Linked DNA regions of Homo sapiens: region 2 is linked to region 1. The links come from fine-mapping of genetic effects on gene expression. A gene starts in region 1. The other region holds a variant in brackets. All regions are shown on one strand. Distances are between the middles of the regions.

Region 1 (11,321 bases):
TGGCTGGAGTGCAGTGGCACTATCTCGGCTCACTGCAACCTCTGACCCCCAGGTTCAAGCAATTCTCCTGCCTCAGCCTCCCGAGTAGATGGGATTATAGGCGCCTGCCACCGTGCCCAGCTAATTTTTGTATTTTTGGTAGAGACGGGGTTTCACTATCTTGGCCAGGATGGTCTTGAACTCCTGACCTTGGGATCCACCTGCCTTAGCCTCCCAAAGTGCTGGGATTACAGGCGTGAGCCACCACACACTGCAGGAGGTGTTTTTTTAAACCACGTACTGTTAATGAGAAAACAAGGTTATGAGTATTTATGATGGACAAAATTACTAGAAGTTATAGACAGCTTTGTATAAAATTAGTGTTCTTTTGCTTACACTTTGTGATCTGACAGAAGCATTGATAAAAGACCTATAAGACCCAACTATATAAAATTCTCAAGATGCAGAGATTAATGAGAGTTATAGGAACAATCTATGGGAAAGAAAAACTTTGAGTTGTTTAAGACTCAGTGGAACAATAATTATGAAGAATATCGTTTTAAATTTGCTTACTTTTGAGTATCATAATGGTAACGACATAAAAATTTCCTAAATCTTTATATACAATTATGCATATATTAATTAACACGTGTGGTGCACAGAAAAAGTCATGTTACCAGTTGAACTAGTGGATGCTTTTTTTAAAAAGTATTAATTACCAAATGACAGCTATTAATAATTCGTGATTATATACTTCTAAATTATACCATTAAACACAATATGCCTTAATTATATTTACATTATACTTTAAACTGTCATTACTTTTGGAGACTGCATCTCTACATTTTGGATAGGGTTTGGCCTTCTTGGACAAAATTTGCTAAGCCTATAGAGCAGGGAGAATAGCTAAAACCTTACTGGCTTTGCCAAATGCTTTCATATGTTTTTGCTCTTACGGAAAATGAGTTTTGATTTCTTTTCAGCCTACATGCATGGCAAGGCAAAAATTGAAAACAAAGCTAGCAACTTTCAACAAGTTCTAGTTAAGTTTGGCATTCATATATTGCTCTGATCTGCTCTAGAGCTTTAATGTAGTTTATTTTCTAGAGTAGGAAAAACTAGTTTCAGCACCAAGCATCATCAACAAGTAATGATGAAGAAAATGGAACTGAGTTAGGTTTAGGATATAATCTAGCTAATTTTATTTCTATTTCTGAATTAGAAATGAGAGTCATTCCACGTGTTTTTTGTTTCTTTTGAAACAATTTTGAAACAATTTTCTTTTGAAAACAAATTTTGTTTCTTTTGAAACAAAATTAGAGTTTCACAAACTCTAATCACAGGCAAAAATACACTCCCCATAATAGATACAACCGTCCCTCCTTAATAGTTTTCTATAACTGTGTTGCTCAAACTTAATGGCAGTTTTTGGCCTACTCTCAAGCCTCAATACCTCTTCCCTTCAACCCCTGACCCTTTTAGAAGTGTCTTAGCTATAGCCATTGGCCAGAGTAGGGCAGTGAAAGTGATACTGTGTTCTATTGGCTTACACTAATCACAATATTCTGCACCTATGTCCATTTTCATACTATTTCAGATTCTTTGTTACTCAAACTGCTGTTATTCTTATGTATATTTTAACAAGTGCCTGATCACTTCCCTATAAACAAAGATACTTAGATGATAAATCTCAGTTTAAAAATTAGCATAACGTCTGTACCAGAAATATATGAACCCACTGAATAAAATAATCTTCAGTTTCTTAAGGTTACTAAAATTAAAAACATGAGTTTCTACAGTTGGAAAAAACATGTATGGTTAAAATGTTTGAAGCCCATCAATCTCTCTAACCACATAAGCTAATGAGTTCCTTCTGTTTTCTTTGAATGAAATCACCATGAGTGGTTATATGTTGATTTAACATAAAACAAATGGAAATGGGTGTTTCCTTTGTCCTTTGTAGAATTTATTTTAAAAAACAATTAGCAACTATTATGAATAAGTCAATGATTTTGCCATTACTTAAATAACAATATAGATTGAGTAATTAAATTGATTGGATTGCAGGGAATGCGTAACATACTCCAACTCTCCTTAACTTGCACACATCTGTAGATATTATTAAGCTTCTCATTTCATTTTTTTCTACCATAACACCTGTATTGTTATAAATTATGTTATGAATTGTCAGAGAGTGCCAGGTAAATTATGTTTTTTGAATGTAGATATACTCTATGGTGTGTGCCTTTTAAGTGTTCCTTTGTAATGGCAGGTTTGTGGCTAACAGCTTAATCTTGAATCTAGCAATATAATTAAACACTATTTCAATTCTTCTTTGTGGATATACAAAGAAGGTTGAAGTATTACCTCTAAAGAATAAAGAAATAATTAAAAATCTTTAATATTTAAAACATTGTCTTACACAAGCAGTATTCTTAAATGTAATTTTAAAACATAGCAAGTCTATTATATTTTTAGGAGAAAAGTGTGGAACTCTTTGAACTCTATAGAATACACATCCTATTGAAATAAGATTTGAAACTTCTATGGGGCATTTTTCTAGTTTGTATAATTTTAATTCACTTTTGATAAATTCTTCCCCCTTCCAAGCATCCTCCTTTTTTGTGATATTGTCTCTTTAAGAATACAGTGAAGAGTGATTCACTTATGTCCTGAGCATCAAAGAATGTCAAATATATCATGCAGATAGATAATGGGTTTTTCCAGAGATTATTTCTGAGAGAGTTAAATAAATAAGTAAATGAGCCAACATATGGCCAGCTTAATTCAGGCAAAAATGTCTATTGATTACTTACTAAGCTCACTAAATAAAAACTTCAGCCTAAGTTTTGCTTCCCAAAAGAAAATAGGATTAGACTGATGCATGCACTCATTGGGGCTTTTGTGAATGGTGCCCAGATGAGTGAAAACCTTCAAAGATGAACAAAGAAGGGCTAAAATATTTTGGTAAATGCAAGTTACTATCAGTTTGACTTATTCTCTTTTGCAATCCTGAATGAAATAATTTTATATTCCTAAGAAGATCATAAAATTACCTCTGAGGTCTGAGAATTAGATAATTCTGCCTTCTTTTCAACGACTTGAAGTAGCCTGATTTAATTTTGCTAGGTAGATCTGTTGTATGTATGTATTTTGACATATGTAAAAACTTAGGTACGTTATAAGGTTTTGCACCAGCTCTGCATAAGTGTACTTTATCCAGACTAGTTTATATCCTGCGTGGTTAATATTTGAATTATGTTATGTAAGAAATTCCAGATGTAAGTGTGTATGTAGTTTAAAGCACCAATGCTCTAAGTTGCTCCTTTTATCTTTTGAAATAGTGAGAATATTAAAACATCAATACATCAGGTAGAAGAAATTAGATTATCAAAGGTTCTTTTTTAATCTGAGAATTACAATGAAACCACCAAAAGAACATGTTCTAGTTATTTGGACACACGTACATTTAACCTATGATTTCCTACAAGTCAAGAACAAACTTGACCAGTAGTTGGATTGGATTTACTTTAGTACTACACCTATCTGGCTTTCTGACAAAATACTGATAGGTATTTAGGATCTTCATGTATTTTGAACAATCTGCTGTTGACATATTAATAACATTGTTTGGAATGATTCCTGAAGTATGATGCTTGCAACATTCCTGCAGCACCAAAAAGTACCTATTGTTTCTGAAAGCAAAGCAGCTTAAGTTTTATCCTACTTTCTAGGTTTTAAATATTGGAGAATCATTTTTTTCTTGAAAAAAAGGTAAATATGCTTATTTAATTGATGGCTGCATTCATTAGTAGAATCAGTGGTTTACAAATACATCTGAAAACATAGCTGCTTCCAGCTCAGAAATTTTGCAATAAAAAAAAAATCCATGTTTGAATTTTGTGGCATGCACAGGACACTTAACTGGCTTTTAAACGTTTTTCCAGCGTGATTCGCCCTGTCCTGCTCTGTTCCTTTCAGCTTAGGTCCATCGTAGGCTCTGCCTGGCTGTTTGCTGACATTGCCAACCGAGAGGGGCAAGGAAGTGTGTTCAGAGGACAAGAGCAAAGGCAGTTTCAATGTAAGGAAATGAGGGAAACAGACCTAACAGCTCTGTGACTATACTTGAGAGTAAAGAGCCTTGTAGTCTCCTTTCCTTCCTTTGCTTATCCTGGTGAGTTTAATCAAAAACAAACAAAACGCTCTTGTGAAATATAGTCAATAAAGTCAAAGTTTAGCTGGCTCTACGTAACTACAAAGAAAAAAATCATCGCAATTTAAAAAAATGTAACTTTCATTAACGAGCGCGCCGGAAATCTCAGGTATCAAAGACGCATTAACCCTGGAGCGTCCCCCGCGCGCCGCAGCCGGACGGAGGCAGCCGCGGCGAACAGACGTTCTTTCTCCTCCATGCAGTTACACAAAAGGAGGGCTACGGAAACTAAAAGTTTCGGGGCCTCTGGCTCGGTGCGTGGAGAAAAGAGAAAACCTGGAGACGGGGTGGGTGAAAGACGCATCCCGGGCGCCTCTCCGAAGTCCAGGCCGGGAGCAAGCTCCTGGGCCTAGAGGGGAGGGGGCCCCGAGCCGCTGGTCATCCCCCTGCGCTCAGCCTCGGAGCGCCGCGCTTCGCGGCGCTCTCCCAAATACTCTTCACCCACTCCAGAAATAAAATAAATGTTTTTAAAGTGCATGTGTGTGGACAGGATGGAGAGCGCGCGCCGGCGGAGCGCGCGGAGGACCCAGCGCGCAGTGAGTGGAGTTTGGGGGTGGGCTAGGGGTTAGCGGTTGAATGGGTGTGTTAATGGGGGGAGCTGGAGGCAGAGCTCGGGGACCTGGGGGTAGGGGGAGCGCGAACCGACTGGGAGGGGAGAGAAGGGGAGGGGCGCGAGCTGGCGCAGGCCGCCTCCGGGGCGCGTTCCACGGCCGTGCGCGCGCGTCCCTCGCCGCCACCGCCGCCCGGACAGCCCTGCGGCCGCCCCGCCGGCGGAGCCGGGGCCGGCCTGGTCCTCGGGCGGCTGCTTGGCCACCGCCACCGCCGTCCGAAGGGCTCGAGCCCGTAAGTATCCCCTTTCGCTCCTCCTCCCCGCCGCTTGGGCGCACAGCCGCAGCAGCTGCTCAAATGGAGTGGAAAACGGCCATTGGGCGACAATGAGTTATAGATTATCTGCTCCACGTTTTGTACTTAGCTGCCTGTAATCTTCTTTTGAGTTTGCCCGAGCCCCTTGCTGGAAAACTCAGGAGGGAGAGATTTGTCCTTTGACGCTGTACACGCTAGTATGTTTATATGATTAGCCCAACTGGCGGGGAGGGCGGATTTGGGGGAAGGAGGAGGAGGAGGCTGGAGGTGACTCCAGTTCAGACCTCGCGGAGAGTCTGTGTCAGGACTTCGCATTCCCCCGTCTCTCTCTCTCTCCCTCTCGCTCCCTCTCACTCTCTCTCCGCTCACACACACGCAGAGGTGCTGGGGCGAAATCGGGAGCTTACCAGAGAATTCCTTGGGATTGTTGGGGGGCATCTCCCCTCCGCTGCTGTGTGTGGCGTGGCTCTTCCCGGCTACTCCTTGCTTCCCCGAGCCCGAGTCTGCGCCGCCAGCCTTCCTTGGGGCAGCGGCCACCGCTCAGCCCCGGCCGGGAGATCCGAAATGTGAGGAGGGGTCGCCGCCGCCTCCCGCCCCAGGCCGCAGGGTCGGCGCGAGGGATGCTATTCCGGCCGGGCGCTCGGGGGGCTGAGGGGCTTCGCCTGACAAACTGAGTTGGCCTCGCGCCCCCGGCGCCCTCCCGCCCGTCGCTTCGAAGGGACTCCCAAGTCTGCGCACCTCTGTCAGGCTTTTGCTTCCACCACCCCTTTCGCTCTGATTCCCGATTTTTTTTTCCTAAGGGAGCGTGCGGTCTGGGGGTGTGTGCGTGTGTGTGAAAGACCTCTCTCGAAGAGCGGCGTGTGGGAAACTGCGGGAAAATGTTGACTTAACCCCAGGAGCCGCCCGGCGCTGGCTGCTCGGCTGGAGGCGGCGGCGGCCGAGCAGGAGGACGCGCCGAGCTGCGGCGCCGTGTCCGGCCGGGGAGCTGCGGCGCTGCCTCCCGCGCGGACTCGGCGGCCGAGGACCCGCTCGCGGCCGGCCTCGGCCCTCTCCGGCCGGGGTAGCCGCTGCCCTCCGCGCCTGTCCCCGCGCGGCCCCCACGCCAGACGGCCCTCCCTCGGGGCGCGCTCGCAGACGGAGGTAAGAGCCGCAGGAGCGAACAATGTGCCTCTGTGCCCAGCTTCGGAGACCTGTTTGCTTTGCGCCTCCAGTCCGGGGGTGGATGCTGGAGGCGCAGGGAGCCGCGGGTTAATGGGGCTCGGCTGTTGCTGTTCGGCTGGCCCAGGGGGAGACCCGCGCTCGCTCGGGCTGCTCGCTCCCTCCCCCCAATCTCCTCTTGGAAATCGATCCGCAGAACTCTCAGTCCGGTCCAGCCGGCTTCTCCTTTTCTCGTGGAGCCATTGTAACGCTCTCCAGGCATCAGTCTAGTTGCCGGGGGCGCTGGCAAGGGGGTTAGGATGAGGCTCCCGTAGCCATGCATTTTTTAATTTCATAAAAGCTTGGGGTCGCAAGGTTCCGCCCGTCCTTTCACTGGGGGCCTGGGGAGGAGGAGTGTGAAGCGCGTCCTCGGCGGAGCTTATTTGCTCCGGGCGCTGGGGCCCGGGGCCACCCCAGCGTCCCGCCCGCTTTGCCCTCCGGTCCCGCACTGTAAGTGGAGCGGGGAGGCTGAGCGGCTGGAGCGAGTTCGGGGGAAGTGGACGGTGGGGGAGGGCTTGGACGAGTTTTTGAGGGTTGCTGTTCCTTCTCGTCAGTGGTTAGGTGGTGTGGGGAGGCGAGGATGACAGTAAAGCGCAGCCAGATGTGGTCGGGCCGCCGCCGGGACTGGCTACGATTGGGAGCGGCGGGGCTGCTGCTGCCAGGGCGGCCTCGTGGGTCGGGAGGGTGCAGGGGCCGGGGACCCGGCGGGCCACGGGGAGGGCAGAGAGCCTCCCGGAGCCGCAGTGAGAGGGCAGCAGCGGGCCGCGTTGGGCCTGCGGGAGAAGTTACGGAGTGTATGCTGCTGGAGTGGCTGTGGGGCAGGGAGCCTCGGGAGCTTGGTTTGTGGGATGGGGGTGCCACTGGGGAGTGGCGACGAGAGAAAGGCGTGGGAGGAGCGCGAGGGAAGGGGAGACCCCCGCGCTGCCCGAGCGTGGGCTCCTTGATTGGCTGGGGCGACCCTCAGGCAGAGGGGGCGAGGGCGAGCCAAACCATGGAAGCGCCCCAGCAGTGTGGAGGTGCGCCTGCGAGACTTCTGCGCTTGGGACCCGTAAAGTTTGTTCCTTTCGCCAGACTGCGGGGTGGGGGTGAGGGGAGAATACTGGAAGCTTTACTTAATGCTAAAGTGTCGCTGAGTGGAGGCTTTTTTTCCCCCCCTCCAATCCTCTGTTCACTCTGTGCTCTCAAAGAATAGTTGGGAGGGACAAGTCCTGCGGTATCTATCATAGCCTTTCTCTTTTTAGGGACTCCTCCTCCTCATCTTTTCTCCCTCTCCCCGCCCTCCATTCCGTTCTTCCCGATACAAACTGTTGTCTCAGATTCCGACCGAGGGAATGTTTTCCTCCTGTTTCTTGAAAGGTGTCAGGCTGCTTAGCAGCTTCTCCCAAGCAGCCTGGGAGCGTCTGAGCTGCAGCTACCAACCATATGGTTCCCGTTACAAAGGCCAGGTTCTAAGGCACTCTCTTCCCCACCCCGCCCTCAATTCTTTGATTTTATTCTGCATTCTTTCAGTACGTGCACTTCTCTTCCCCTTTCCAGAGGCATAGATTTAACGGACGTAGTTGATTCATTCATTTCTCTGTCACTATTTATGTGTGGAACGGGTCCCACCGAGTTTGCTCTTTGCTCAACGAAGTTGCACAATGAAGAAAGTCACATCCTTTGGTAAATAATTACCTGTTAGGTTGTCTCTTGCTAAGTCAGGTTTGATCTTGGGCAAACCTTAGAAAATAGGCACTAAAGAGGCAATATGCATCCAGAGCAGAAAAATAGAATAGTTTTGGTACTCATCTGTGGCAACATTCCAACTTGTGATGGGACTGTTTTGACCTAACTAAGGGTACTTTGTAACTTTAAATTTTGTATCTTCGTAATACTTGAGAAACCCTTTAAAAGAAAATTTACTTCTGTCCAGGTGTGTTATGGAACGTTTTGTTGTCTCTCCCTCCACCCTTCCATAAATTTATGCATAATAGAAAGAATACTACAGAACAAATGTTCTGTTGTTTAGTTTCTTCAGACATTCCGATTCTCTCCTTTTGTTGTTTGCCTCTAAAAGAGGTGCCATTTCACATCATTCTGCACAAATTGTTTGAATTAATGCAAGTGTGAATTCTTACCGTTTGAAGGGGACTATTAGCATATCAAAGGTTTCTTAGCTTTAGCTCAATTGAGAAAACTTCAGCCTGTCTTCCTTTTGCTTCCAAGCGGAGGCCCAAAGGGCAATGAGAATTGTAAAGGGTAAAAATAGGGAGGTGGATTCAGGCTGTGTTTCTGAACTTTTACTGTTTTGTAGTTATGTGGGCCAAAAACATTGTCTATTGCTGTGGAGCCCTTGCAAATGGCAAGACAATTATTTTCTATTGATAAATGGTTTGTTCCTAGAAAAAGAGTGACCTTTTGTTTTATGATAGTCACTGTTGCCTGTCTTTTGGGGTCCCTTCAGTGTAAGAGAGAGTGAGAAAGCCTTTCCTTCTAACTTAATGCTTTTTTAGGAACTACACTTTGTTTTATTAGTAAAATGAAAAGGCCACTTAATTAGTTTTTAATTAGTCTCTAAAACAATAGAAATTTTGTGATTAAAAGACTCATTTGTACACGTAGGTAACTGTTTTTTATGTGCTAAATAAATAGGGAAAAAGTCAGCGGAGGATGCTGAAAATTAAAACCTCAAATGAACTTGACACAACTTCTGTTGCAAAAAGAAGCTTGGAAAAGTTTTTTTTAAGTGAAGATTCAAATTTTTGTGAATTCTATTTAAATAGATAATTCTGTTTAAATATTGTTTTGTTTCAAAATTTTTGTATCTTGTCAAACAGTAAACTCTAGTATTCAGTTGGTTTATTTTAAAAAATATAGTTTATTTGTTCTTGCTTTTTTATGTTTACAGAGAGAACATATCTTTGAATTTCTTTTAACAATTCAATATCCATGAATGAAAAAAAGAACAAGTGCTTGGGTCATTTGGGTTAGTTATCAAGTGCAGATGGGTCAAGGGGGAACTTTTATCTTCAATTTCTTGGGAAGAATTAGTTTTATTTATTTGACTTAAGAATTTACAAAACTTAATTCTAAGATGGAAATGAATTTCAGGGGAGACTTTTTTGGAGATGTAAGCTCATATTTTTTATAGTTTTACCTTAGATGTTTGGTTGCTTTTGAATATGAATTGATAACCTTTCATTTACTAATGTTCAAACTCCTTGCTTTTATTTTATTAATGAAAATGAATTCCAATATAACAATTTCAGAGGGGAAAAACTATCATTAATTGCCTAACATTTTTAGCTTAAGTGTAATCGGATGATCCTTTTTTTTTGGATTACAATTAGGGTTTTTTTTTCTGTGCCATTGAGATTGTATATCATTATATCCTTACCCTGAAATTATTTTATGGTAGTTTATTTATCTGATCCCTTCACTTGTCTAGGAAGTACTTTAGTGGTTAAAAAAAAAAAAAAAGGCCACATTGATGTAATTGCTATTATTGCACTTAAGTTGCTGTTAACTAGTCTGCTTTGAATGCAGAGTGTTATAAAGAAAACAACATTATCCTTTACAGCTATTAGTGATAATCTAAAAATTGTCTTGAAAACATTGCTCTTCACTTTATGTGAGGGTGATCTTGAATTCAGTAAATCTCTAAAGGTGCAAAATGTAGTGAAAAGAAGATTTTTCAACATTTAGATGACAAAATTGGACTACTTAGGGAAAAATTAATGTGTTGTAGAAGAACTTCAGCTGCCATTTTCAATCACTGGGTTACTATGTGTTGGCAACAGAAAACGAATTTAGAAATGGAGATAGCTCTGGGAGCAGGTAGTTGGGGAAATCAGAATATTGAATCATGTGGGGTAGAACAAACCAATTACTTCAAGTTTTGACTTGAGAATTTCCAATAAGTATAATTTTTTCCAGGCTTTTGACTGTCTGCTTTATTAATGGACTAACATCAAAGCAGGCAACAAAACTTCCAAATGTTATAAAAACTAATGTAAATATACAGATCTCACATGCAGTAATACAAGTCTAAATTTAAGACAAACAGTTGGGGTTTTTACTGCTGCAATTTTCACAATCAGCAGAAACATTAACACCAGGCTTCTGGGTGTTTCCTTTTTTGAAATGAGCTAGAAGAGAGCTTTAAAACTAAGGTTTACTTAGGGTTAATCTTTATTTGATCATTATTGAAGCTTTCTGTGTTTCATTAAATTTAAAATAGCGTTTTAGTATCTTAATATAAGAATATGTGAATTGAGATTGAGATGTCATGAAGGTCAAGAGGTAACTAGAAATCTACAAACCATAGTAATAAAATGTTATTGCTTTATTTTCTATCAAAATATTTATTTGACCTCACTTTTGTGAATATTCAAATAACACTCAGTTTATTGACAGTTGTAGGTGGAATTCTAAGATGTAGGTTAAACATACTTGTACCTACCTAAAAGAAATCTGTTTTCATTTTAACAATCCATACCGCTTGCCCAATGCTGATATTTAAGAACATAGATTAAGGGTTACTTAGATTAAGAATGAAAGATAGCTTTGGAAATGGAGGAATTTAGTTTCACATAAGGTGCTATTTTTACAAAAGTTTCTTCAAAGACTGTAGCACTTTTGCCTCTTACTGTTTCACCATATCTGATTTTGAGTCTTGAAGGGAGAGATGCGCATTTGATGTCTGTCTGCTTTTCTGCAGAAAAGATTTATGTAAAAAATAAGTGCAATTATTTTTAAGGTAATATATTTTGCAAATAAAATGCATCGTTACAAAAAAATGGTTCTTCAAGATTATTTGCAAAAATGCCTAGCTAAAAACTTTTCAAATTGATAGATTTCGATAAAGCATTAAAAATAGCAAGTTTAGCTACTAAGAGCTGAAAAGGAGTTGAAGTTCTGTGAATGTTTTGGTCATATCAGTTCCTATGGATTAAATATGAGTTAATGTAACCTAAATGGATAACTTTTGTTGCTATTTTTAACAAAGATTAGAATATTTATATTTCCAAGATAGATTAAAATCATAGGCTAGTTTACTTCTGTCTTACATAAGACTAATTATTCTATA
Region 2 (11,321 bases), 92 kb before region 1:
ACATTGGTGAGATCATCTCCTGGGAGAGTAAGTATAGGAAAGGGTGGAAATGACACAGAGATAAAAACAACTTTATTCTCGTACCGAAGAAAAGGAAGAGCAAAATAATGTAAAACAATTTACAATGAAAATGGGTAAAAAAATGTAAGGAGAATGAAGAAATGGAAACTGGTTATTATAAAGTTTCACTTAAACATTAACTTGTGCCAAGGTTAAATGAGTAATGAGTCTGGACTTAGGATTACCTAACAGTCTCTAAGTTTACATTTTCCAATATCAGCCCACCAAAAGTAATGGGTTCTTTTGTTTGTTTGTTTTATTTTTAGTTTAGTGCTCTTGTATTCTACACTAAGGAAGGAAGTGTGGGGCAGATATCTGCATATGAAGTAAAGGAGGCCAATAAGCCACAAAAGAGCTTAGTCTTTAAGGAAAAACCCATCATCTCTCTGGAGCTACCCCTTCCCCCTGCTCATCTTTGGCCTTGCTGGTAACAGTAAATGTATTTATTTAACTACATGACACAAGCCTGTATGGGGATGCTTAGGCCTCCCTTCATCATCATACTTCCCCTCTTACACAACCCAGATTTCTGTTGGCTCATACCACCTGGGTGAAACACCAAATTCAGGGCAGCCATCTCCTAAAAACCAGTTAAATCTAATACCTGTGCATTACTTGGCAAAAAGAGAAGGCCCTAAAAGTCTGACTGTCTGCTTAATGCGTCTGGAATTACCATTAGCATTTAGGATAGGTGCATTCTTAGGCTTAGCTGGCTAGTCCGGTTTTCCTGCCTCAAGACAGAGCATAGCACATCAGTCACTAAGTGGCTGCCAGTGGACACAGGGCATCCCCTGGGAGCGGCGGGCCTGGATATGGTCTAACAGGGGCGCTGAGCATTGAGATTCCTGGAGAGATTAGTGGTAGTGGTATGTGGATGTCTGGGCCTTCAAGGACCAGATAGTAATCAGTAGGAAAAGGAACAACACAAAAATGGTCCCAGAATACTTCCAGCCTGCCATTTGCTGCTGCTTCCAATTTCCTTCTTCTTTGGTCCTCTTTCTCTGCTTTCCTCTTCCCCACCTTTCCCAGATCCCAAGTCTAAGGGTCTTGTTGACCAGGTAAAACAGTTTGTAACATGTGGCAAATAGAGAATGTTGAAGATTTTTAAACAAAGGAATGAAACTCACCTTAATTCAAAACCAAAGATATCTTGAGGAGCTACTTTATGTCAGGCACTGGAGTGTATGTAGGGGATTTGAAGATAAACATATCAGGCCTTTTACTTAAGGAATTCATCATCTAATGGAAAGACAAAACTGTTAAACTCAAATACTGGATGACATAGGGGTACTGAAGAGAGGAAACGAGGATGATGGCAGAAAAAGACACTTCTGCAGAAAAAGAAAAATACTGGCAAAGCAAATGTCTGAAGCAAATGCATGTAGATATGGGAATGCACATAAACATGAACAAAACAGTGTTGTTGTTTTCTTTTAATTTTATTTATTTATTTATTTATTGAGACAGAGTCCCGCTCTGTCGCCCAGGCTGGAATGCAGTGGTGCAATCTCGGCTCACTGCAACCTCCACCTCTCGGGTTCAAGCAGTTCTCTGCCTCATCCTCCCAAGTAGCTGGGATTACAGGCATCCGCCACCATGCCCCACTAATTTTTGTATTTTTAGTATTGGCCAGGCTGGTCTTGAACTCCTGACCTTGTGATCTACCTGCCTTGGCCTCCTAAGGTGCTGGGATTATAGGCATGAGCCACCACGCCCAGCCCTGTGTATTATTTTTCTGGCAGCAATGTATAATGTTGTTTGGATGCAGAAAAGCCTACAGGTGTGCATCACCATGCCAGGCTAATTTTTGTGTTTTTAGTGGAGACGGGGTTTCACCATGTTGGCCAGACTGGTCTCGAACCCCTGACCTCAGGTGATCTGCCCATCTCTGCCTCCCAAAGTGCTGGGATTACAGGCGTGAGCCATGCGCCCGGCTGGGAGCAGCTCTTAAACGGCAAAATTCCTGTAGCCAGGTCAGCCTGTGAAAGAACAGCAGGAAGCCAGCCTATAGAAAAGAGGTGAAGGGCTGGGCGCAGTGGCTCACACCTATAATCCCAGCACTTTGGGAGGCTGCAATGGGAGGATCGCTTGAGGCCAGGAGTTTGAGACTGGCCTAGGCAACAGCAAGATTCCACCGCTATAAAAAATTTAAAAGGTTAGATAAACATGGTGGTAGTCTCAGATATTCAGGAGGCTGAAGCAGGAGGATCGCTTGAGCCCAGGAGTTCGAGATTGCAGTGAACTGTGATCATGTGAGCTATATGCACTCCAGCCTAAGAGACAGAGCAAGACCTTATCTTTAAAAACAAAAATTTTGGGGCCAGGCGCGGTGGCTCATGCCTGTAATCCCAGCACTTTGGGAGGCCAAGGCGGGCGGATCACGAGGTCAGGAGATCGAGACCATCCTGGCCAACATAGTCTCTACTAAAAATACAAAAATTAGCTGGGCGTGGTCATGCACGCCTGTAGTCCCAGCTACTTGGGAGGCTGAGGCAGGAGAATCACTTGAACCAGGGAGGTAGAGATTGCAGTGAGTGGGGATCACGTCACTGCACTCCAGCCTGGTGACAGAACAAGACTCCGTTTCAAAAAATAATAATAAAAATAAAAACAAAAAAATAAAAAAATTTTTTTAAAAAGGGATGGAAAAGAGGATATAAATGGTCAAGAAACCTTAGAGGAGAAATTGACAGGGTTTTGCATATTATTGCAGAGAGACAGGAAAGCTGTCATACTTGACTTTAAGGTTTCAAACCTTGGTGATGACATTTTTGAAAAAATAGGAAACATAGGAGGGGATGTAAATGTGAGAGGGAAGATATCGAATCCAATTTGGACGTAATGAGTGTTTTAGGTGCCAGAGCTTGTCTTTCCAGAGAAGAGCAGTGTGCAGGTGGAAACCTGTATTTAGCACTGAGAAGACGCAGGGCTAACAGCAGAGCTGTGGGCATCCTCTGCAGACAAGACCCAAAGGATAGGTGAGATTGTCAACGAAAAGAGAGAACAGGTGAGAAAAGGGCTAAGGAACAAACTTTTAGATCACATACACATAGAATGCAAAGAGGAAAGAGACAGAAGTTGCAGTCACACAGTTAAAAAGAAAACTGAGAATGTCCCAAGAAAGGAAGAAAGGGTGGAGAGTTTCTGGAAGCAAGGCCTGATCAGGCATCAAGGAGGAGACACAGACAAGGAAGATGGAATATGAGAACATTAGCTGTCACAATGACTTAGTCATGGATGACTTTCAGGAGAGAAATTTCATGAAGAGATTTCTCTTCATAGGAAGAGAAGTCATAAGCTGGGTGATAAGGACTTACCAAATGGCTCTAATGTATTTTAATATTGAAACAAAAGCAAAGCATTAAGCTTTCTAGGGGTTTAGCCCTAAATTGGAGGAACAGAAGATAAGAAATAGGGACTACCTCAAAGGGTGAGGAAAGTAGTACAAATTTAACTTGGTCTGCCGCGCTATTTTACCCAACCAGAGGCCTGTTGTAATCCTGGTTTCTCTCAAGCTGTTACTTCCCATCCTCAAGTGAAGGTGGGTGGCGGTTAATGGGGAAAAACTTGATGACTAAGGTTAATTATCAGAAAGAAAAATTACAGTGTACAATTATCAGGGGGAAAAAAAGGATGACTAAGGCCATAAATCACAATCAGGCTCTTCCTACAATTCATGCTTAGGAATTAAAGGAATTTTCCCCTAAGAATGTCATCTCCACTCCACCCACTGTTCATGGCCTATTTTATCTCTTTGAATACAGTCTATCCTCATAGGAGAATGTGAAAATTTCTTGTTTTGTGTGGCCTGCCCATAGGAAAAGGCCTTGATGATAATCCTTTCACGTAAAAGTGTGTTCCTTGGCTTCTGGTGACTTTTAAAAGCTATAGAATTCTCACAAAAGCTTTGCTATCCATGTAGCAAATTCAGTGGTCAGTCTCCCTACCTTATTAGGCTTAGTTTAAAAGCCATGATAATCTGGACAATCCTAAATGAAGGTATATCTTTCCTCGGCTTTTGCTTGAATGTATGTTATTGTTGTTGTTGTTGTTGTTGTTGCATCCACATGTTGGATGCTCAGTGCTCGGTTCTACCCAAACCAATCTGATAACAAATACCACCATATTACCTGTGAGTAGAATATTATTTTTGCCCTATTCGAATACTTTTTTATTAGCCACCCACAGCTCCTCTTCAACTACATGCAGATACCCCTTTAAGAGTGCAGCTGAGGTGTGATATCTAGCTTGCTGGAAGAGAATATAATTATGTTTTTACCTAATAGGTAATCTCTGTGTTATCCAAGAGTTCTGTATGGGGAATATGAATTATCCATGTACCACATTAACAAAGCATTCAATTGCACTTAGCTTGTGTTCTTCTTTTCAAATATAAGTAGCTATTTTAAATGCCTACGCTTGTTCTCTCTTTCTTTTTAGTTGTAAGAATATCTCTGCCACTTACCTAATTTTTGCAAACTTTTTATTTTTGTGCATATATTTGTGTACATATACACAAACACATGCACACATACACACACATTCTAAAGCACTCAAGGAGGCACCTTCATAAACTTGCCTTGCACGGTTGTTGGTTTATCCGTCAAAGAAATCATTACCAAGAGAATGCCGTGCTTCACATGCTTACTAAATTTTTTAAAAATGCTTTTCATTATATTTATGCAAACATAACTTGGCTAGCTCATAATTTACCAAATTTAAGCATTTGTCAGGGTTATTTCCAATCACTCAGAAAAATGTGCCTTTGTGTATTTTGATTATTTAAAGCAATATTGTTTCCATTATGCATATCTGTTGCCAGAACAGCATGACTGTCTTGACTGAATGAGGAAGTGGGAATGCTCTTAATTTTCCTACACGCATCTGCAGAAGTACTTTTGATTGTTTAGCCAATGCACATATAATGATGTAGGCATAAATGTTTCTGCACACATTTTCCTTGGCACTTCAGAAGAGAAGGGTAATGCAAAGGGTAATTACATATACTATTGTTTGCATTAAAATTTACATATATATATATATATACACACACACATATATATATCCTAAATTGTAAGCTGAGGAAATGTTTAATATTTTGAAGCATAAAAATTAGGATGGACTCCTTCTATAGAAATCTCTGTTATGTGATCACATTTTATTTATATACTTCAGCTAAACAATTTCCTTTATTTTTTGCTTTGGGCTTGTATAAGCTTTCTACCAAACTCTAAAGTTCTTAGGGATCAAATAGTGCTACTCAAACTTGCTTACCTTGCCTTGAAACACATCAACTTACTTGCTCGTTAGATGGGTCCATTATTTTCCAAGGAGACAGGAAAGGAAAACAGACAAGGTATTAGAGACCACACTTCTGAATATGGTCTCACCATATAACTATAGAATCAAACATTTTCTTCCTAGGTTACTATAGTTCATCGAATCTAAGATGCTGTCAATGGTAAGATGTACCCTTATTTTATATTCTAAAAAGAAAAACTAAAACTCTGCCAATGAAACGATGATATACTACTGATTGAACAAGTTATCCTTATTTCAGAGAAGTCATTAGGGTGGTATAAAAGTAATTGTGGTATTTGCCATTAAAGTACTGCAAAAGCCGAAATTACTTTTGCACCAACCTAATGGGAGACAAGATCCATTTTACAATGGATAAAATAGGCTTTATGGAATAATTAGAGAGCTTTAGCTCTTGGGTATAGTATGTTAACTACATCAGCCAACTGAATGGTGCTCCTTTCCTGCAAGAGACTATCTCCTCTATTCAGTGAGACTAAAAAAATGTACCATGGATTCCAAATTGCTTCTGCTGTTTCCCATGTACAGAGTTATCAAGAAGATATTTTCTCTTTTAAAAGAGATGACTTTGGCTTGAAGGAAGCAGAATAGTAGTATAAAAAGTAAACACAAAAAACAAAACAAAAAAAACCTTAGTGTTTGGAGTTTATTTTTTTTTTAATTTAAACTTTATTCTTGTTTCTGTGAGTCCTTAGGCTATGG[G/T]TTGACCTAGCTGACACTTGATTTCCCTACTCACTGTTTCCTCAGTTCCCAGTTTTTCTGCCCATCCATCTCTCTTCTCCACACTATTAAGAGGCATTTGAAATTTTGAGGTGGGTACTAAGTATGCCTTAAAATATCATTATAAAACAATATTAAAAAATGGTCAACCAAGCTTTAAAAAAATTTTCGAAACATGTTAAAAACTATCCTATTCCAAACAAATTCTTGTAAAATGTATACATTAATAATGAAAGAAGTAAAGTCAATTGTTTGGCTATCAGAGAAGGGACTTATAGAGAAATAACTGTTTCCCCGTCCCCCTCACCAACTCAACTTGATTTAATTAGTTGATTAATCATGGCTGAACAACTAATCACCTGTGGTGTGTCTCCTTATCTGTTTTGGAAATAGGCGTTACAAGGCAAGAAACAAAGCTAGGGGGAAATATTAAATTGCAATTTAATTTATTTATCACATATTGCATATCAAGATATTTTCTAACGTGTCAGATTCTTCTGGCATTATAGGCAATATTCACTTACTCATCACTCATCCATCTGTTAAATAAACCCATATGAAGCACCTCACGAGTCTCAGGTACTCTGGACAGAAAGATGAACAGTGCTGCCTTTCTATAGCAGTGTTTCTCAAACTTTTTGAGCTAATAACCCATTTCTACTCTCAAAAATTATTGAGGATTCTAAGAACTCTTGTGAGGCATGGTGGCTCATGCCTATAATCACAGCACTTTGGGAGGCGGGCAGATCACTTGAGGCCAGGAGTTCGAGACCAGCCTGGCCAACATGGTGAAACCTCATCTGTACTAAAAATACAAAAAATCAGCTAGGTATGGTGGCACACACCTGTAGTCCCAGCTACTCGGGAGGCTGAGGCATGAAAATCACTTGAATCTGGCAAGTGGAGGTTGTAGTGAGCTGAGATCACACCACTGCACTCCAGCCTGGGTGACAGAGAGAGACTCTGCTCAAAAAATTAAAAAAAAAAAAAAAAAAGAACTTTTATTTTTTGTGAGTTACATCTCTCAGTATTTACCACGTTAGAAATTAAAATGAGAAATTTAAAAATATTTGTTAATTCAAAATTTATGAAGAAAATCAGCCTTGCACAGATACTAGATGCAAAAAAAGGAAGAATATTTTACTAGCCTTCTCAGATAAATGTGCTATTCTTCTTTGATATTGAATAAAACTTTGACAAATAGTTTATTAAAGGTTAGTTGCAAGGTGGAATCTGAAACCATATCAATGAACATTTAAAAATCTGCTGCATTAAAATACATTGGTTAATCTTACATTTTGGATAGATCTTTAACCAATATACTACATGCATGATTTTGTAACATCATGCATTGGTCATTTGGAAAGTATTGTTTCACTGAGTTATGTAGATTTCCCATATGTCAGCATATTTCATGAAACATTTTAAAAGGAATCACCACTGTTAATATCACCACCAAGCTTATCAGAAAAGTCTTTACATATTACGAAGCTGTCAAGTTCACAGTGACAGATACAAATTGTTCTTCAGGTTACAATTCTTGTCCGCATGTTTGAATTTTATCATTGGCAATAAGTACTGTTGATTGTTTTCCTTGAAGTGATTTGGCTTGCTTTCATTCATTGTTTAAAAAATATCTGCACAGCACCTAAATCTGAATAACCATCGTTTGTCTGTCAGTTGCTTTTTAAAGTAAAAATGGTATTTCATGAAGAGAGCAGCTATGTCAGGTTACAACTCAAACATTTATCTCATAAGTGCTTTTCCTCAAGACGGTCAGACTTCGGTAGTCTGTGAAAGTGCTTTTTGCATGCATCCATTTTGTCATATAGAATATTAAAGATGTATATTCAGAGATTTAGATTTCTTAAAATTAGCAATGATTGTTTTTAAAAAGACATACTTAAAATTGGTATTTTTTTGTTTGTTGTTTGTTTTGTGTTGTTTTTGTTTTTGTTTTATTGCAAGTGTGAGGTGGTTAAGAATATGACTATAGTGCTACATATGGTTTGGTGCCACAGTTTTAATTTATGCTAAGATGTTAGCAGTTTTATACACCAGTGCTTTCTATCATCATTGCAAATGTCAACAGAGTGAAAAAGGCAAATAATGTCTTAATATGATTTTGAAAATAGATTTCACTTTACAAATCCCCCTGAAAGGGTCCAGGGACCCCAGAGGATCTGCTGACTTCACTTTGGGAACCTACTCTAGAGATTCAAAGGTTAAGGGAGAAGATAGATTAATGAACATGAATTTTCAGTGGTTTGTAATAAGTACAATGATAGAGGAAAGCAAAAAAATATTTTCAGAGCACTCTAAAGGAGAATATATCTGAGTGTGATCCTGAAGGACACCCAAGTGTCCGCCAAGTAGAGAAGGAAGTCTTTGGCTAATCGAATCCTGTGCCTGGGACTATGATTTCTGTTTTCATTTTACCAATGCTTTGTAAAGTGTAAAGACATCTCAACCATATGGTTTCTATATGGCAACTGGATTAAAAAAATATATGCCCAGTCAAGTAAGGCCATTAATAGACAATTACCACTAAAGGTTGAGTTACTATGGGAATTTGGAAGGAAGGACCTGGATGGTTGCATGAGATTCCATGTTGTATTGCATAGACATTTGTATGTGGTAAGCCAGATGTCATCTTTCAAGTACTTTTGGGCTCTGAGTCCCAATAGAAATAAATTCAAATCGGTCTTCATCGATGTGACCTGACATGATGTCATTGAACTATTTTAACTAACACTGAAAAAAGGTGAAATTATTGACATGGATTGAATTCCTAACATATGACTTGGTGACCTTACAGATATGATTACATTTAATTATCAAACAATTTAATGGGTATCATAATATCCCCATATTTAAGACCGAGACACTGAGGATCAGAGACATTAAGTAATATGCCAAAGGTTACAAAAGCACACAGTGTGCAGAACTGGCTTCTAAGCCAGCTGTGTCTAACTGGGAAATCCCTGTTCTTTCTCCAACTGGGATATATATAACTAGGAACAGGCAGAGTTATATTAGGTGTAAGATAAGCCTCAGAAAACACACTGCCTATCATGCTGGAGCACCAATTTACCTGGATCGCGGATTTTTTTTTTTTTTTTTTTTTTTTTGAGACAGAGTTTAGCTCTGCTGCCCAGGCTGGAGTGCAGTGGCATGATCTCAGCTCACTGCAGCCTCCACCTCCCGGGTTCAAGTGATTCTCCTGCCTCAGCCTCCTGTGTAGCTGGACTGCAGGCATGCACCACCACGCCCAGCTAATTTTTTGTAAATAGGGACAGCATTTCACCATGTTGGCCAGGCTGGTCTCAAACTCCTGACCTCAGGTGATCCGCCCATCTTGGCCTCCCAAAGTGCTGGGATTACAGGTGTGAGCCACCATGCCCGGCTTGAGAGTGGATTCTTATAATATTTTTTAAATTAAAAAACCCCGATATATAATGAAATGGAATGAAAATCATTTGAAGATGGAGACTTCCAAGGCATTCCATCTTGAGAGGGAAGGACCTAGGATCTTCCTGGAGCATCCAAGAGTCAGAGTTCATAGTCCTCTGCATTGAGGGAACTTTTGAGATACACTCTGAGACGTGCATTTTTATGTCAGACAAACCAGTGTGTTTTGCCCAGTAACTAGACCAAATGCTGTTCAGTTAGTATGCCAAGCAGTCTAAAATTGCTCCTAATTCCTGATTGTTGTGGGTATAATACACATTTCTAAGCATGTTTCACAGATGTGACATCAGCATGTACCAGAAGAGGTAAGGTTAGAAGGGAAGAAACGATTAACTCTAATATTTACCAACAGCCACTAATGGCCAATGATAGTGATGATGATGAGAATGAGTGTGATGAAAATGATATTTTTTGAGTATCGACCATGTGCTGAGCACTCTGCATAAATTCATCATCTTAAGTAAACTGCACAGCAATCTTGTAAGTTGATCTTATTGTCCCCATTTGTGTATGTACCCAGACATAATACTATGCATTTGTGTTATCTCAACAAGTCTGTGAGCTATTATTATCCATATGCTGCTGATGAAAAATTGGTCTCAGAGTGGATAAGTAATCGCCCAAGTTTATACAGTAAGTAAATGATGGAAATATGCAAAGACCCTGAGGGGCTTGTCTCAAAAGCCCTAGATCATTCCATGCCATGCTGCCTTGATATTAGGTAGAGATACTGTATTAATCTGTTCTCACACTGCTAATAAAGACATACCGGAGACTGGGGAATTTATAAAGAAAAAAAGGTTTAATGGTCTCACAGTTCCACATGGCTGGGGAGGCCTCACAATCATGGCAGAAGGTGAAGGAGGAGAAAAAGCGTTTCTTACATGGCAGCAGGCAAGAGGGTGTGTGCAGGGGAACTGCCCTTTATAAAACCATCAGATCTCATGAGACTTATTCACTATCACGAGAACAGCATGTTATAAGCCTCCTCTGATGATTCCATTACCTCCCACCAGGTCCCTCCCATGACATGTGGGGATTATGGGAGCTACAATTCAAGATGAGATTTGGGTGGAAACACAGCCAAACCATATCAGATACCTATATAAGTTATCATTTAAATTTGGATACTTTTGAAAGTAAAAGTGGATACTATTAATAATTGTGCCAGAGCAAGAGATATAAATTAAGATTGCCTCAGAAAATAAGGAATAAATTGTTACCTCACTATTAGGCAAAGATAGAGGCTGAGTGGTATCAAACTTCTTAAAAATACATGCATCAAGGTATTTCTTTATTTTAAAATACTGACTAATCATTTCACCTCAAGCAATCTTTTATAGTATGGGGCAGGGCAGGGAGAAGGCATATATGTATGCTTAATACTCAAGAAATAATTTTTACCTAGCAATTTATAGAGTAAAAAACATGCATCATTTTTGATACATTTTTATACACAATATAATAGAAGTCAGGCACAAAACTCTAAAGGGGATAAAGAAGATTTAGAAAACCCTGATTCAGTATTAGAAATTAATGAATGTGGTACTTACTATGTGCTGAAATATTATAACTTACTGATCAAGGGGAGAGAATTTTGAGAAGTGTGCTACATACTTGAATAGCTCCTATTTCAGAAATAATCCTGTAACAATAACTTGAGACAGTTTTATATAATTGTGGCAGGTAGTCACTCCACATTGATTCAAGTACAGGTTTGGGCATGTTTTGTTTTTTTTTTTCCTTTTCTT

Direction of the effects. Positions count from the first base shown, and alleles are read on the strand shown. Sizes are in standard deviations (SD) of each study's normalised expression.
In carriers of allele T in region 2, the expression in fibroblasts of the gene that starts at base 4,901 in region 1 tends to be higher than with G alone (small effect, 0.21 SD a copy in GTEx).

The links.
Region 2: its variant is fine-mapped to the expression of ADGRL2 in fibroblasts (GTEx, PIP 0.98).

What each region holds. Positions count from the first base shown.
Region 1 is chr1:81,796,034-81,807,354 of GRCh38, forward strand. ADGRL2 (adhesion G protein-coupled receptor L2) reads left to right here and starts at 4,901. Exons shown (of 24, transcript NM_001366006.2): 1 at 4,901-5,035. RefSeq lists an enhancer at 8,025-8,667.
Region 2 is chr1:81,703,551-81,714,871 of GRCh38, forward strand. It overlaps a transcript of ADGRL2 not described here. Among named protein-coding and RNA genes, the nearest start is that of ADGRL2, 92 kb to the right of the region's middle. The variant G/T (reference allele first, on the strand shown) is at 6,082.